Regions from separate parts of the Homo sapiens genome. Here region 1 is linked to region 2. The links come from fine-mapping of genetic effects on gene expression. A gene starts in region 2. The other region holds a variant in brackets. All regions are shown on one strand. Distances are from middle to middle.

Evidence for each region. PIP is the estimated chance that this variant, and not a neighbour inherited with it, causes the effect.
Region 1: its variant is fine-mapped to the expression of SNX25 in whole blood (INTERVAL, PIP above 0.99).

Annotation. Positions count from the first base shown.
Region 1 is chr4:185,280,197-185,288,530 of GRCh38, forward strand. It overlaps SNX25 (sorting nexin 25), which reads left to right. Exons shown (of 19, transcript NM_001378034.2): 6 at 7,816-7,886. Among named protein-coding and RNA genes, the nearest start is that of SNX25, 75 kb to the left of the region's middle. The variant T/C (reference allele first, on the strand shown) is at 3,194.
Region 2 is chr4:185,204,473-185,212,806 of GRCh38, forward strand. SNX25 (sorting nexin 25) reads left to right here and starts at 5,126. Exons shown (of 19, transcript NM_001378034.2): 1 at 5,126-5,783. The coding sequence starts at 5,355. It also overlaps a transcript of CFAP97 not described here. RefSeq lists enhancers at 371-480, 591-680 and silencers at 4,825-5,404, 5,515-5,674, 5,745-5,934.

The DNA of each region.
Region 1 (8,334 bases), 76 kb after region 2:
TGAGCCACCACACCATGCTGCAGTTTTATTTAAGTAGAGAAAAGCTTGTAATAACCAAAATGCCTAACAAAAAGGGTTTGGTTAAAAAGATTTTTGGTGTATCTATACAGTGGAATACCATATATTGGTAATGGTGTAGCATTAGCATATTTAATTGTGCTGGAAAATATTAATTATAAATTAATAAAAAACACTCTAAGGCAATATGTATAGCATAAACCCAGTTTTATAAAACAAAAAAATTATGTTTGCATAGAAAAAGGTTATAAAGATAGTCCAAATGTTAATAGTGGTTAACTTTGAATGTTGTGCTTTGTATATTTTCTCATTTTCTTCAATGAACATATGCTACTTTAGAGAAAGTAAAAACTGGTGCAGACTGAGAAAGTAAAATCTGCCCAGCCATTTATCAGGCTGGTATAACAGACACTAAAGCCACCTACAAAGTAAACAGGAAACAATATTTCTCCTAAGTACCTGCCATGGCAGTAAAATGTCATAATGATACCCTTCTTTGTGCTTTCGTGTTCACTGAGAAACTTTGTTTTCAAAAATCTTCAACTGCCAGTTCCTGTTTGGAATTATGTCAGTAAGAATGACAGATTCTACTTTTGCCTGGGTGATCTAAGTCAGCTTGACACAAAGAAGCAGCTTTGATTTACGACCCAGATGCAGAGCCGCAGTTATGGGGTTTCTGGACTCAGTATATCTATCTTGCAGCTTTCAGGAAACGAGACCCTGGATCCACCCAACATTGACCGCTTTACACAGCCCTGTCTTGGGCCTATCAAAATGCTGCTTCATTTAAATTTCACCTTCACTCCACTGTTCCCTAGAATCCCATAGTAATGTTACCTTTTCCCTCGTTTGGAGAGACGCCCCACAGCTTCCACTGCTACACTGTCTCTTGCTCTTTATGTGGGTCAGTTGACCTGATTTTGTTGGACTAGAGTGATCTTGGTGGTCTCAGGTTGATTGGGCTAAAATGCTCTGTAATCAGGAAAAAATAAGGCTGCTTCAAATTTATACATATTTAACAAACATGTATACGTACCATTTCCCTAGATAGTACATATCTAAAGACTCAGTAACTGTGTTAAGGAAGAATAATAATGAACATTTATTGAACTCTCACTGCGGGGCAGACTGTGTTTTAAGATTTTTAAGGGTATTATCTAATTTAATGTGTATAACAACCCTATAAAGAAAAATTACTCTTATTACTCTTTTCTATAAATGATGATGCTTTAGTTTTAGAAAGCTTAAATCATTTTCCCAGGATGACATAGTGTGTGTTAGAAACAGGATTTGAACACAGGCCATCCACTGTGAGAGCTCACATTCTTTACTACTCTGATACACTTTCTCATTTATCCAGCAGTCCCTTTTAGTAGTGCCATGGATGGGAAAAAACTTCAGCTTAGCTGGCTAAAAGCATCATGGCTTTATTTCTTCACAAATTCTATAACTGAAGTCCCTCTAACAAAAACATTCCTAGCCTGTGGCAACTCTGAAAACATTCTTATAAAATTCTTTAAGCTGGGTGCGGTGGTTCATGCCTGAAATCCCAGCACTTTGGGAGGCTGAGGCGGGCAGATCACTTGAGGTCAGGAGTTCAAGACCAGCCTGGACAACATGGTGAAACGTCATCTCTACGAAAAATACAAAAATTAGCCGGGTATGGTCGTGCGCACCTGTAATCCCAGCTATTCCAGAGGCTGAGACATGAGAATCGCTTGAACCTGGGAGGTGGAAGTTGCAGTGAGTCGAGATTGCACCATTGCACTCCAGTCTGGGCAACAGAGCGAGACTCCATCTCAAAATAAATAAATAAAAATAAAAATTCTTTGGTTTTTCATAAGCACTCGTAATGTGTATGGTATTCTCCATAATCTTGCTAATTTTTATAAAACAGTGTTTTAAACCATTTATCACATCGCATACCTGAGACTAAGGTTTGGCCAGCCTTTGACTCTGCCATGAAATTACAGCATGTGCATGTCCGGACAGGCTGGAGTGCAACGGCGGAATCTCAGCTCACTGCAACCTCCACCTCCCGAGTTCAAGCGATTCCCCTGCCTCAGCCTCCCGAGTAGCTGGGATTGCAGGCACCCGCCACCATGTCCAGCTTATTTATTTATTTAGTATTTTTAGTAAAGACAGAGTTTCACCATGTTGGCCAGGCTGGTCTTGAACTCCTGACCTCAAGTGATCTACCCACCTCAGCCTCCCAAAGTGCTGGGATTACAGGCATGAGCCACCCTGCCTGGCCTCAAATCTGTAACTATCTAAGGTGATGACTTTGAAGTGCTGCGTAGCATTTCAGTGAGTTTGAGATTGTTGGGACGTGTTCAGAAACACAAACTTGCTCTTTTTATTTAGCCACTTGTAAAATACCAAAGAGAGATGAGGTGGCCACTCTGAGGAGCAGATGGCAGTTATCTTTGTGTGGCTTTTCCTTGTCACTGGGACAAAGGATACTGTAGGTAGGATCTTGCCAGAGTTGGAAAGCAGCTGAATTCTTGTTATGCCCCTCCTCCCTAATACTTGACTTTACATTATCATTTTGCAAAACATATACCAACAATCTGTGCACTTTTGATCAAGGGAAAGCGTACAAACATCAGCCCTCCTGATTCTTGAACCGAACTCAGCACTTGCAAAGTCGTATCCTCCTCTGGAGAAAGAAAACCGAGTGAGTGCCAGGTAACTCTGGAAGCCCGTGTCCCCGTGTCCTCATGGATAGCCAGCATTTGGATGTGTTTGGATGTATATATTGTATAGTTTTGTTGAGAAAAAAACAAGAATGAGAAAGTCAATCATTTCCTCTCGGTATCCAGTAACAGTGAATTAAACAAATTCAGTAATCATCTTCAGATGCCCACTATGTGCAAAGTGCTGTGTCAGAAGGTCTGGTGAGTACTAAGATGAACTGGTTACACTCCTTGGATTCCACCCCCTGCTGTCAAGTGTTTGCAGTTCCTCACAGGAGACCCATGTGACTATAAGTAGCTAAGTAGGAAGCAAGATCCTAAGGCTGGAAGTGGAGTGTAAAGCACCAAGGAAGTGGGTAGGAGCAAATATTTTATTCTATAGCAGAGAACTCTTAAGAAAGCTTCAGAGAGGAATGGCCATGCATGGAGTGTTTAATAAGAGTTAACAGGATTTCAGCAGATAAGGGGAAGTGATGGTG[T/C]GCAGGAAGAAACAGGAGTACTGTTAAGGAGAAGGAGAAATATTACTGAGAAGGGAGTCAGGAAAGACCTGGAGTGTGTTCATGGTATCACGTATGGTCTGGTTTGGCAGAAACAGTATGCAGGAGGGATATAGAAGGCAGTAAAGCTGGAAAGATGATCTGGCATTGGCCATACTTACGTACTTAGAAAAACCCTAGAGAAGATAAGTATTAACCTATATTGTATTTTAGAGTAGCAGAAAAATGGTTAGAGCATGAGCTTTAGAAGACAGGCAGCCCTAGATTGTCATTCTGTCTCTAGGACTTAAAAGCAATGAGACCTTGTATAGATCTCATAATCATCTGAATTCTAATTTCCTTCTCTGTAATGTGGACATAATTCTGGCACCTTATTATGAGGATTAAGTGAGATAATGTAAATTAAAATATCTAAACAGGTACCCAGTACAATCTATGAATGTTTGCTGGTATTACATTATAATTTTATGGTTTCATTAAAAAAATCTTTAACTCTTTAGTCAGATGGTGTGTATTTTCTTTGGTACCCTTGATGACTCATTTGTTCCAAAGCATGAATCACAAAGAATATCAAAAGAATAAATTGTTCAGAATATTATTTTTACCTGTTAAGTGTTAGAAATGTTGACTCTTGTTAATTTAGCTCATTAATATCTATTGAGTGCCTACCATATGTTTAGTGCCAAGCTAGGTACTATAGGAGAATATAAGACAGAACTCCTGTGTTTAAGAGACTCTTGATCTAGTTGGGGTGAAAAAAGTAGCATATCTTTATTATACACAGAACTATGGTTTTGTAGTTTTCAGTCTACATTCTTAGGCTCGAAAATGTGTCAACATTCTTTGAAGGTGTATTAGGCCTTGAAATGACTGGGCACACCATTTTCTTTGTTCACAGCATTCTTTGTGGAAGTGTGACTCTTTAAAACAGCAATATGAAAGAGTAAATAGATACTATTATAGAGCAGAAGTCATTCAGGATTTCAGAGAAGACAGATATTGGTGTGCATTATAGGGATGGGGAAGACTTGAGGGAAGAAGTAATATATGTAAGATCTAGGTAGGTGGACAAGTAGGAAGACTGCCTTCCAGCAGGAAACAAAGCATGAGACTGTAGTTTTGAGAGGGCAATATAGAAACCAGCCTGGCTTAATTAGGTTCACATTCATAGGGAGAAAAAAAACGAAGTTGTTGGATAGTAGAGCCAGTGCCAAGTTGTGAAGGGAACGTAGGCAGGAATGTGGGGTTATTCATTTGGGGAGGTGCAGGAGGTAAACAAGGGAGAGATGAGGTGAGTGTTCCCATAGGAGGGTGTGTTGACAGGTGCTCAGGATGGTTTGGATGGGAGAGAGGATTGAAGTCAGGGAGACAGGCCATTTAGCCATTGCAGTGACCTACTCAGGAAAGAAGGCAGCCTGAAACAATGGTAGCTGAAGGTAGTGTAAGCAAGAAGCTTATTTAGAGGCATTCAAAGGACCATCCGTGGGGCTTTGAAACTGATGTTTATTAGTAGTATATATACCTAAGATGATTTTGAGAAGGATGATGGTACTAGTAGAGAAACGGAAAGGTAAGGAAACCTTACTATGGAAGAAAGAAGGTTAGTTTAGCTTGAATAGGCTTAGATACATAGGTACATAGATAAAACAGCTTAGAAAAAGTTAAAAATGACTCATAAGTCTACCATTTTAACACAACTGCCATTCATTTCATCTCTATTTTGCCTTGTAGCCCTGGCTCATATATACACATAGATACATATCTGCAATCATAAATGTATGTGCCATTTTTCATTTTAAAAATTAGTCTGTCATAAACATCTATTTTCATGTAATCTTTATTATTATAAATATTACTGGCTGGATGCTTTCTGTTTAATCTGATATGTCCTGAAAGCAAGGACCATATTGGTGGTGTTCATTTCTGTGTGTCTGGAACGTAAGAAAAGATTAAGAAATGTTTGTTTAATGAAAGCATCATTGGCCATACTCATTATTGACCATGAGTATTTTCGTGCGTTTCTTTGTAGAACTTGCTACAACAAACATGTATGTGATAGTTTGGGCTTTGGGTTTTCATTTTGATTTTTTTCTTTTGTTAAACTGTTACCTTATGATAAATACTTGAGATTGGAATTGCTGTGTGGAAGCACGTCAAGTCTTCCTCAGAAAGCTCTCTATCAGTTGGAGTGGCATTTGGCCACAAGACAGCTTGACATACAGCAACTTAAATGAGGCAGGTGTTTATTTTCCCCATGTCACCACATGTCCTGAGATTGGTAGTTAGGGGCTGTTTTGATGGTTCATGATGTAATTGGAACCCTGAACTCCTCCCGTCTTCTTACTGCATCATCCTTAGCTTGTAGTTTTGTTTTTGTGTTTTTGAGACGGGGTCTTGCTCTGTTGCCCAGGCTGGAGTGCAGTAACACAATCATAGCTCACTGCAACCTCAACCACCCAGGCTCAAGTGATCCTCCTGCCTCAGGCTCCCAAGTAGCTGGTACTACAGGTGTGCGCCACCATGCCCAGCTAATTTTTTTTTTTTATTTTTAGTAGAGACAGGGTCTCCCTTTGTTTCCCAGGCTGGTCTCAAACTCCTGGGCTCAAGCAATCCTCCCACCTCAGCCTCCCTAAGTATTGGGATTATAGGCATGAGCCACCACACCTGGCCTTTTTCTGTTTTGGGGTTTGTTTTGTTTTGTTTTGTTTTGTTATGTGTTTTTTAAAGAAACAGGGTCTTGCTCTGTCATCCAGGCTGGAGGGCAGTGGCGCAATCATAGCTCACTGAGACTTTGAACTCCTGGGTTCAATTGATCCTTCTGCCTCAGCCTCCATAGTAGCTAGGACTACCGGCATGCATCACCACTCCCAGCCAACTTTTTAATTTTTTGTAGAGATGAGATCTCACTATACTGCCTAGGCTCTTGAACTCCTGGCCTCAAAGCAATCCTCCCTCGGCTTCCTAAAATGTTGGGATTACAAGTGTGAGCCACTGTGCCCGGCCTGGCCTGTGGCTTTTACCCTCATGATTGTAAGGTACTGTTGTGCCTTTATCCAGTTGCATCCTTGTTTTACACAGAAAAATGAGGGAAGGGTGAGGACTAAAGTTGGAAAGGGCTTTTCTGCGGAGGCTGCTTTTAGCCTGCTTTCCTGGAATCCCTACCCGGTGACTCCTGCCTGTCTCCAAGGCTAGAATGGTATCACCTGGCCATCTCTGACTGCTGGGAAGAAAGCTAGTCTTTTTAGCTGGGTATGTCACTTTCCCTGATAAAACTGTAGGTCACTTAACAAGGAAGGAAGGGAGACTGGACGTTGGGCAGGCAGCCGGCAGTGTCTGCCACCATCTCTGACTGGCATGCCAACACTGCTCCTGACAGCCTGCTCTGAGGTCCTGAGAGTCAGCCACTGATGTTTATATTATCCAAATGAAAAAATAAGGTGCAAATTTGTGAGGAGTCCATGAGTAGCTATGACTAAGATAAATTTGTCTCTCCTCTGGGTTTTAGTTGAAAAGCAAAAGAATGTATGTAATTGTGTGCTCTAAAAGCCAGCAGATGTAACATTAAATCTTAGAACACTGCACGGTTTTTGTTCAAAGTAAGAATTAATGTTAAAGAACTTTATTACCAGCAGATGAAATTAATTAATTCATATAATTAAGGGCTAAGAAACACTCAGGATAAACCACTTTGATTAGGGCAATACTTAGTAACCATTAAAGGACTCTTAAGAATTTGGATTTGTAAAGCCCAATTGAATTTATGCTCAAAATAGCTACAACTCCAGGGTTGTACTCAGCACTTAAAATGTAGAATTATGTTTATTTTTCCTGACTTGGAGGTCTTCTTAGGCACACATATATATAGCTGGTGCTCTAATCTCATGCTTCTCAGCTCTCCGTGTGCCTTAGAATTGCCAGGAGAGCTTTAAAAATACTGATGCGAGTCCTGGTGCAGATATTTTGATTCTGTTGGGTTGGGACCGTGTTCTAAATGAGAAGCAATGAGGCGCTGCACTCAGGCAGGGCAGTGGGGCTGCAGGGGAGAGGGCAGTTCTGAGAACTATTTAAGACGGCACCATCCAGTAGAACTTTCTACAGTGAAGAAAATGTTCTACTTGGCACCGCCCGGTGTGGTCCACAAGCCCACAGGTACCGTGGAGCATTTGAAATGTGGCTAGTGTGATTGAGGAACTAAACGTTTATTAATTTAATTGGATAGCCACATGTAGCTCATGATCACCTTATTAGACAGTGCCAATGTAAGAAGTAGAATCAGCTAGCTCTGCTCACCTAGGATTGTGGAGGAGAGGGAGGCTGAGCATAACCTCAGAGTTTCTACAGGTAGTTATGCTTCTGGTATAGGGAACAGAGTGGAAGTGAGGAGGCTCCTGATGTTTACGTGAGGGCCTCAGAATGACTAGCGCGTGGCATGGGGCCCGGCCTATTGTAGATGCTCGGTCTATGTCGGATTATTTTATGGAGCCTTGGGCAGGATTCACAGCTCCTGTGTTACATTTGTTTAGTATAAATACAGTCTAAAGTTATTTCTGAAAATAGTATTTTCTTCCTCTTAAATCTTTTTCTTTTCTCTTTTTAAAAATCAGGTATCAAATTGTAGTGGAAATAATCCAGGCGACTACAATTAGCAGCTTTCCCCAACTGAAGAGGCACAAAGGTAAGAGCCAGGTTGTTTTCTTCAGTTCCACATCTGAAAGGTCAGCTTGATCCCCGGCCTTCTCCCACCTGTCAGATCTTTGGCAAATAGGAGCTTTTCTGGCTTACATTTAAATATTTCAATTTATTAAAAACAATACTATTACAGTATTAGAGAAGTAAATATAATTTCATCCTAACAACAACCTTTGTCTGTATTTCTGTATTCCCGTATAAACTTTATTCAGCTGCAGTCATAATTTTTAGAAGGCTAAAATCATTCAGTATATGTTTCTGTTCTGTTTTTAAACTAAACATGATTACATACTTTTTTTCACATATTGAAATTTAATATTTCTATCTTGAAACATAATCTTGATGGTCATTTAAATGACTCCAATAAGTTGAGATTTCATAATTAATCTTTTCCTTATTTTCCTTTTTTAAGCTTTTTTTTAAGGAATTATAAA
Region 2 (8,334 bases):
TAGTTAAAACAATCTAAGGTAAAAATGATCTCTGCAGAATATATTGAATACAATAACTTCTCGTTGAACTCTCAGGTATGGTAGGATGATGGCACCCCAAAAATGTGCACCTCCTAGTCCCCACAACACGTGAATATGTCACCTTATGTGGCAGACAGGATTTAGCTGATGTGATTAAGGATCAAAATGGGAAGATTAACCAGGATTATCCAGTGAACCCCATGGAATCACAAAGGTCCTTATAAGATGGAGACAAGAAGTTCAAAGTCAGTAGTGGGAGCTGTGAGCACAGAAGCTAGAGGTTGGAGTGATGTCAGAGGCAATGAGCCAAGGAGTGCAGGTAGAAGCTGCAAAAGGAGGAAACGGATTCTCTCCTGAAACCTCAGGAAGGAACTAGAGCCTGCAAATTTTGATTTTAGACTTAATACCTTAAGCACTGTAAGACAATACACCTGTGTTGTTTTAACTACTGAATTTGTAGTAATTTGTTATAGCAGCAATGGTATACAATCCAGTAGTTAATAAATATTGTTCACATCTAAGTGCAAAGAAGGGTAGGAAATATGGGTCTTACCCTGCCTGTCCCGGGGAGTTCCAGTAAGGATTGTCTATTTTCGTCCTTCACAATGCATTTTGTACTTGTTGGTCTTAATTACCAAAAGTATAATCAATTCTCTTTTTGTTGCCTAAAAGACAGCATTGGCTGGGCGCAGTGGCTCACCCCTGTAATCCCAGCACTTCGGGAGGCCGAGGCGGGTGGGGCCCCCTGAGAGGAGTTCAAGACCAGCCTGACTAATATGGTGAAACACTGTCTCTACTAAAAATACAAAAATTAGCTGGGCGTGGTGACGTGAGCCTGTAGTCCCAGCTACTCGGAAGGCTGAGACAGGAGAATCGCTTGAACTCCGGAGGTGGAGGTTGCAGCGAGCCGAGATCGTGCCACTGCACTCCAACCTAGGCAACAGAGTAAGACTGTGTCTCAAAAAAAAAAAAAGCAAGAATTTCACTTTCTTTTAAAGTGCTTAATAAAACTGTGTTGGCACCACTTTCCAGGGATAGTTGTTAAACTGTGGTTGGCCCGGCGCGGTGGCTCACGTTTGTAATTCCGCACTTTGAGAGGCTGAGGTGGGCGGATCACCTGAGGTCAGGAGTTCCAGACCAGCCTGGCCAACATGGTGAAACTCCGTCTCTACTAAAAATACAAAAATTAGCCAGGTGTGGTGGTGCACATCTGTAATCCCAGCTACTCAGGAGGCTGACGCAGAAGAATCGCTTGAACCCAGGAGGGAAATGTTGCAGTAAGCTGAGATCACGCCATTGTACTCCAGCCTGGGCGACAGAGCAAGCCCCTGTCTCTAAATAAATAAACAAACTGTGGTCAAAAGTTTATCTTACAAAGGACTTGAGTAGATATTTCTCCAAAGAAAATATACCAATGGCCAATAAACACATGAAAAGATACTCAACACCACTAATTAGGGAAATGCAAGTCAAAAACACAATGAGATACCGATGGCTTTAGTCAAAAAAATAGAAAATAAGGATTGGCAAGAATGTGGAAAGATCGAAACCCTTATGCATTGCTTGTGAGAATGTAGCATACTCAGCCACTGTGGAAAATAGTATGGCATGTTCTGAAAAACTTGAACATAGAATTATATGACCCAGCAATTTCCCTTCTGGACATACACTAAAAGGAAGTGAAAGCAGGGTCTCAAACAGATACTTATGCACCCATGTTCATAGCAGAATAGCCAAAAGGCGGAAAAAACTCAAGTGTTTGTTTATCAACAGACAGATGAAGCAGAATGTAGTAGATACATAAAATGGAATATTATTCAGCCCATGACTTGTGCGCCTCTGGTCCACATAACAACATTAAGATGGTCTGCAGGACAGACAGAATGGAAGATGTATGCCGGGCATGGTGGCTCACTCCTGTAATCCCAGCACTTTGGGAGGCCAAGGTGGACAGATCCTGAGGTCGGGGGGTTGAGACCAGCCCGATGAACCCCATCTCACTAAAAATACAAAAAATTAGCCAGGCATGCTGATGCATGCCTGTAATCCCAGCTACTCGGGAGGCTGAGGTAGGAGAATCTCTTGAACCGGGGAGGCGGAGGTTGCAGTGAGCCGAGATTGCGCCATTGCACTCCAGCCTGGGTAACAAGAGCGAAACTCTTGTCTCAAAAAAAAAAAAAAAAAAAAAAGAATGGAAGATGTACTAATCTTGGTTCAGAAAGACAGAACCAAAAGGATATAGATAGATATATGAGCAGGAATTTATTAGAGGAATTGGCTTACATGATTATGGAGGCTGAGAACTCTGATGATACACCCTTCGCCGGCTGGAGAGCCTGGAAAGCTGGTGGTGTGGCTCAGTCCAACTCTGAAGGCCTCAGAACCAGGGAATAGGATGGCATAACTCTGAGGCAGTAGGCCTGAGAACCCAGGAGGCTGCTAGTGTAACCTGGAGTCTCAACGCCAGAGCCTGGAGTTCTGATGTCCAAGGATGGGAGAAGAGTGTATCCCAGCTTCAGGGCACAGAGGAAACCACCTTTTTGTTCTTTCTGGGCCACAGCTGATTGGACGGTTGCCCACATCAAGGGTGGATCTTCCCTACTCAATCCACTGACCCAGGGGCAATCTTCTTGGGAAACACCCAGAAATAATCCTTTGTCAGTTTTCCAGGTAATCCCAATCCAGTCAAATTGACACCTAAATTTAACCAGTCACACTTTTTTTTTTTTTTTTTTTTTTTTTTGAGACGGAGTCTCGCTGTCGCCCAGGCTGGAGTGCAGTGGTGCGATCTCGGCTCACTGCAAGCTCTGCCTCCCAGGTTCACACCGTTCTCCTGCCTCAGCCTCCCGAGTAGCTGGGACTACAGGCGCACACCACCACACCTGGTTAATTTTTTGTATTTTTAGTAGAGACGGGGTTTTGCCATGTTGACCAGGCTGGTCTCAAACTCCTGAGCTCAGGTAATCCAGCCACCTCGGCTTCCCAAAGTGCTGGGATTACAAGCTTGAGCCACCACGCCTGGCCAACTATCCACTTTTAAGCATGGAATGCAGATCAGGATCAAGAATTTAACCTTTTTTTTTCTCTTCTGTAATATGAGATGAGTAAATCAGAGAATTCTTAGGAAGCATCATGGCATAGCGATTCAATGCACAAGCTCTGAAGCTGGACCACATGGAGTAACAACTAAATCCTAGTTCTGTTATTGATTAGCTTTGCAATGTTGAGCATGTCATCTTACCTCCTGTGCTTCAGTTCCCCGCTGTGTAGATGGAGATAATGGTATCCATCGGGGTTGCTGGGAAGATTAAATGAAGTATGTTTGGTCCTTAGAATAGTATCTGGCACACAGTAAGTGCTGTTAGTTACTATTATGGTGAGCTAGGGCTAAAATTGAAAAATTAATTTAAATTTATCATAAAGAATTCAGAATACAGTCCTCGGCATGTAAATGATCAAAAAACATAGATTTGGTTGTTGTTGATAACAAGCCACTGTGCTTTATTTGAATAATTTGGGTTGGTAGGGTACACTTTGAGGGGCTCCAATTGGGTGAAAATTAACAACTATTTTAGAGGCAAAAGGGCTTCTTCAAAATTAATCATACTGCTTTATTTATTTTATTTTATTTTTGAGACGAAGTCTCACTCTGTTGCCCAAGCTGGAGTGCAATGGCGCGATGTCGGCTCACTGCGACCTCCACCTCCGGGGTTCAAGTTTCACTATGTTGGCCAGGCTAGTCTTGAACTCCTAACTTCATGATCTGCCCGCCTCAGCCTCCGAAAGTGTAGGGATTACAGGCGTGAGCCACCGTGCCCGCCCCTATTTTCTTAAAAAAGGAGGAGAAAGGAAACTGGTAACTTATTTTGATCATCCCCTTGGCATGGCAAAGTCACATCTAGCATGAGGCACTCTTCATTTCTGACTTAGAAGGTTTAAGAAAGAATGAAATGAGGCCGGGCGCGGTGGCTTACACCTATAATCCCAGCACTTTGGGAGGCTGAGGCAGGCGGATCACGAGGTCAGGAGATTGAGACCATCCTGGCTAATATGGTGAAACCCCGTCTCTACTAAAAATACAAAAATTTGCTAGGTGTGGTGGTGCGTGCCTGTAATCCCAGCTACTCGGGAGGCTGAGCCAGGAGAATGGCTTGAACCCAGGAAGCAGAGATTGCAGTGAGCCGAGATCGCCCCACTGCACTCCAGCCTGGGCAACAGAGACTCCGTCTCAAAAAAAAAGAAAAAAAGAAAGAAAGAAAGAATGAAATGCCCATGAATACCAATTGATACTAAAAGCAAAAGCTACATCTGCTTCTTTATTAGTCTTAGCAGTAATTGCCAGTGTTTAAGTAGCATATTGGCATCTACTTAGCAAGCGTTATCTGTATATTACTGGCTGGGACTATGACAGAAGAAAAGGCAAATATATACTCTAAAAATTATTTGGACCACGTTCCTTTGCGTGGCTGATAGCATTTGAACTGAATAGTTGGTAAAAAACAAAAAACAAAACAAAACAAAACAAAAACCAGAAGTGGAGCCAAAGTGATTATGGGCAGCTGCGTGCACCCTGTTGCACCAGGCCGACTTCTTTGGACCTTTCCATAGCTAGGAATTGCAGGCTTCACTTACTCCACCGCACGTGTCTGATTCCTTCCCTAAGGCGGCAGGGTGGGAAAGGGAAGGTCGTTAGAAACTGTGACAGGGAGTCTCGGGAACGGTTGCCTATTTAAATAGCGAGTGAAAACCAGGCAGAAATGTTTGCCGGCTGTAAGCAAAGCGAAGAGGTTACTCGTCAGTGATGAGCGGAGAGGGAGAATTACGGGATCACCTGAGCTCAGGAATTACCAGCGCCGCTGACACCTGCAGCAAAATTTTCCATGAACAGACGGCATCCTGTAGAGGAGGAGGGGAGCGTGGGAAAGAGAGGTGTGCACCGCGCTGGGTCGCGCCCTCTCCCCGTGGGGCCCCGGCCCGGACCCCGCCCCCGCGCTGTGGGTGGGCGCCTCCCGGCTGTCACTCAGCGGCCGCGGTGGCTCCGGGCCCCGCCCGACACGCACTTCAGGGCGGCCCCGCCCCGCCCGCGTCAGGCTGGCCAGGCTTCAGTCACAACACGGTGGGGCTCCCTGGCTGCGCCCGGCCCGGCAGCTACGGGCCCAGCGCCTGGTGGCGGCGCTGAGGGGTCGCCGAGAGGGGCCCGGCGGCGTCTGCGGGGGCCGCTCCCTCGGTGGGCCGCGGGCGAGGCATGAGCGCGGGCTCCCCCTGCCTCCGGAGCGCCGGCGGGGGACCGGGGGGCAGGAGATGTGCCTGTCCTTAGCGGCCCAGGAAGCAGCATGCACCCCGATGCGACCGACAGTGGCGGCGCCGGCCCCAGCCCCGCGCGGGCCGCAGGCGCCGGCGGCCGTCCTGTCTCGGGCTTCAGGGGCGAGCGGCGGCCGGAGTCCCCGGGGGACGCGGAGGCAGCAGCAGCGGCGGCGCCGGGGGCCCCGGGCGGCCGGAGCTGGTGGAAGCCCGTGGCGGTGGCCGCACTCGCCGCCGTGGCCCTCTCCTTCCTGGGGCCCGGCAGCGGGGAGGCGGCGGGGGCCGCGGGGCTGAGCTCCGTCCTGTTCAGGCTCAGCCTGTACCTGAGCTGCGCGGCGGCCGCCTTCCTGCTGGGGATCCTGTTTGCCCTCGTCTGCCGGAGCCCGCGCGCCCAGCCGCCCGACTTCGCCGCCGCCTGGAGCCGGCTGGCCGCGACCTCAGCCGCCCGCCGCCCGCCGGGGGTAAGTACCCGACTCCTGGCCGCCCAGCTCCGCCGGCCCTCCCCGCTTCCGGTGCCAGCTCCCGCGCCCCGAGCTCCGGGGGGCCGCGGCATGCCCTTGTCGAAGCGGGAAGCCGGGAGCCAGGGGGCTGGGCTGCGGGCCCGGCCGTGGACGCGAGCGTTCCCCGGCGCCCGCGCGCGGCGGGCTCCGGGCTCCGGGCTCCGCGCTCCGCGGTGCTGGAGGAGATGCGCGTTATTTACTGGGCTCTGTAGTCACTCGACAACCATCCTCAGTCACAACCCTAAGGGTGTCCCCAGACCTTCGGTGTCGCTTGCCGTGGGAGGGGAAGAAGGGAATCACAGCGTTCGCTACGTGCAGGCTCTGCGCACGGTCCTGGCGATCCGCTTGGTTCTTCTGGCCGTTCTCGGTGGGAGGCAACTTTATGACCGTTTGCCGATGAGGAAACTTGCTTCGGTCCCTGGCCCAGCGCCTCACCCCCAAGCCCGCGTACCCTTCCCACCACCCTATCCTGCCTTCCACCATGCGGATACGTATTATAGTTGTGCAGTCCCCGCTGGCTTCTGTGATTTGGAAGGGGGATGCCAGAAATCACTGGTTTGCAACAAAAGGAAAGCCATCCTCAGCGCGCTGTGGGACACTAGGGCGGGGGTTAGGGAATGTAGGAAAGAACAGTGTTTTAAATGAGCGCTTCTCTTCTTCAGTGCCAAACCCACTGCCCCATCTTTCTTCCACATTCCTTCTCATAATCCTTTAAAGGGAACTTTATTCTATCCCAGCTTAACACTCACTGCTTGACTGAGTGATACCATCATTCTAATGAAATTGCCCAAGCGCTTTGGGGTAAGATAAATGGCAGTGGCTCAACTTCATAAGAATATTTGTTAATGATCATTTGTCCCCAGGGTTTGTATTTGCTTATCACATGACCTGCTCACTCCTTTATTTTAAAAGAAAGCACCACACTTCACCAAACTACTCTGAGTGTGTTAGTTCAGAATGCAGCGCTGAGATAATGGCGGAAGGCATTAGTAGGTAACAGACATTTCGCTCAGTAGGCTGATAAACAAGGCAGTATATTAAGGAGCAGGCAACTCCTGTTTTTAGAAGTGGTCTCAAAAATTAGTAAAGTTGGTTTCTCTTACAAAATCTCCACTTAGCCATCCGTTTTTCATATCTCATTTAGCAGGAGTTGCGGAGCAGATATGTCTCTCCTCTTTTTTTCTACCATGGCAAGTAAGGACCCTGAGATTTTACTAGTTTGTTTGTTGATCAATAAAATATGTCTTAGTTCTTGAGTACTGTAAGATGTTATAATTCATTCGGTAAATATTTATTGAGCATCTTGTGTGAGCCAGGTACTGTTTTGGAAGCTGAGTTTGAATCAACAGGACACATAAATATCCTGCTCTCTGGAGATCTTATGGGGGAGCAGGCAATAAATAAATACTGTGGGATAGTGATAAATGCTTTTGAAACAGTGATTAAGAGGTAAGAGATGAAGAGGGACTAGTAGGTGAGGGAAGGAAGTTTAGAGGGTTAGGTCAAGATCAAAGTCCTGGTATTGCAGACCATCTCCCAGGGCATTGAAAGCCTCCTGTTGTGGGTTAGCACTCTGTTTCCTGGAAAATGCATTCCCGCAAATCTCCCAGCTCACTGGCACCTCTGGGTAGGTAAAACGTGGATTATCATCTAGAAAGATTGTTTAGTAGAGGAGTTGGAGAAAATAGTATTTTAAAGGTGACAGAGAAAATGAAGCAGCATGTATAAATCTCTCATGAATACTACCCGAAGATTTCAGGTAATAGAAGAGGGGAAGTATAATCTAAGGAAAATGAATATTGGTAATTATTTTTGTCCTTGAATTCCTAAAATAGCCTTAAATAAGAAATTAAGTGCATTAGGGGCTGGGCACAGGTTTCACCATGTTGCCTAGGCTGGTCTTGAACTCCTGAGCTCAAATGATCCGCCCTCCTCAGCCTCGGAAAGTGTTAGGATTACAGGCGTGAGCCACTGTGCCTGGCCTAACCCTGCCTCTTAAAAAAAAAAAAATTTTTTTTTAAATTTTTTAAGTGCATTAGGAAATTACATTCTAAGTTATATATTGCTTAGAACTGAAATACATGTCATTCACATAAAATTCTATTTTCTTTGTAGTACTGGTACTGTTTACTCAAGCCTCTAGTGCTGTATTTCCAATAATTTGTGTGATGTGTGTGTGTGTGTGTGTGTGTGTGTGTTTTTTTTTTTTTTTGCTTTGAGACAGGGTCTGCTCTGTCGTGCAAGCCACCACGCCTGGCTAAGTTTTTGTAGAGACAGGGTCCTCAAGTGATCCTCCTGCCTCAGCCTCCCAAAGGGCTAGAATTATCGGCGTGAGCCACCGTGCCTGGCTGTGTGTGCTTTTTAAATGTTCTCTTCTTTATGAATGGAAGAGTGGGAAGCAGAAGCATGTGGTGTAGTATAAAATATCTACAGTCAGTGCTGTGGGAGCTGGACCACACAGGTCAGCTAACATATGTGGAGGGGGAGGCTGTTTAGCAGTGAACCAAATGGA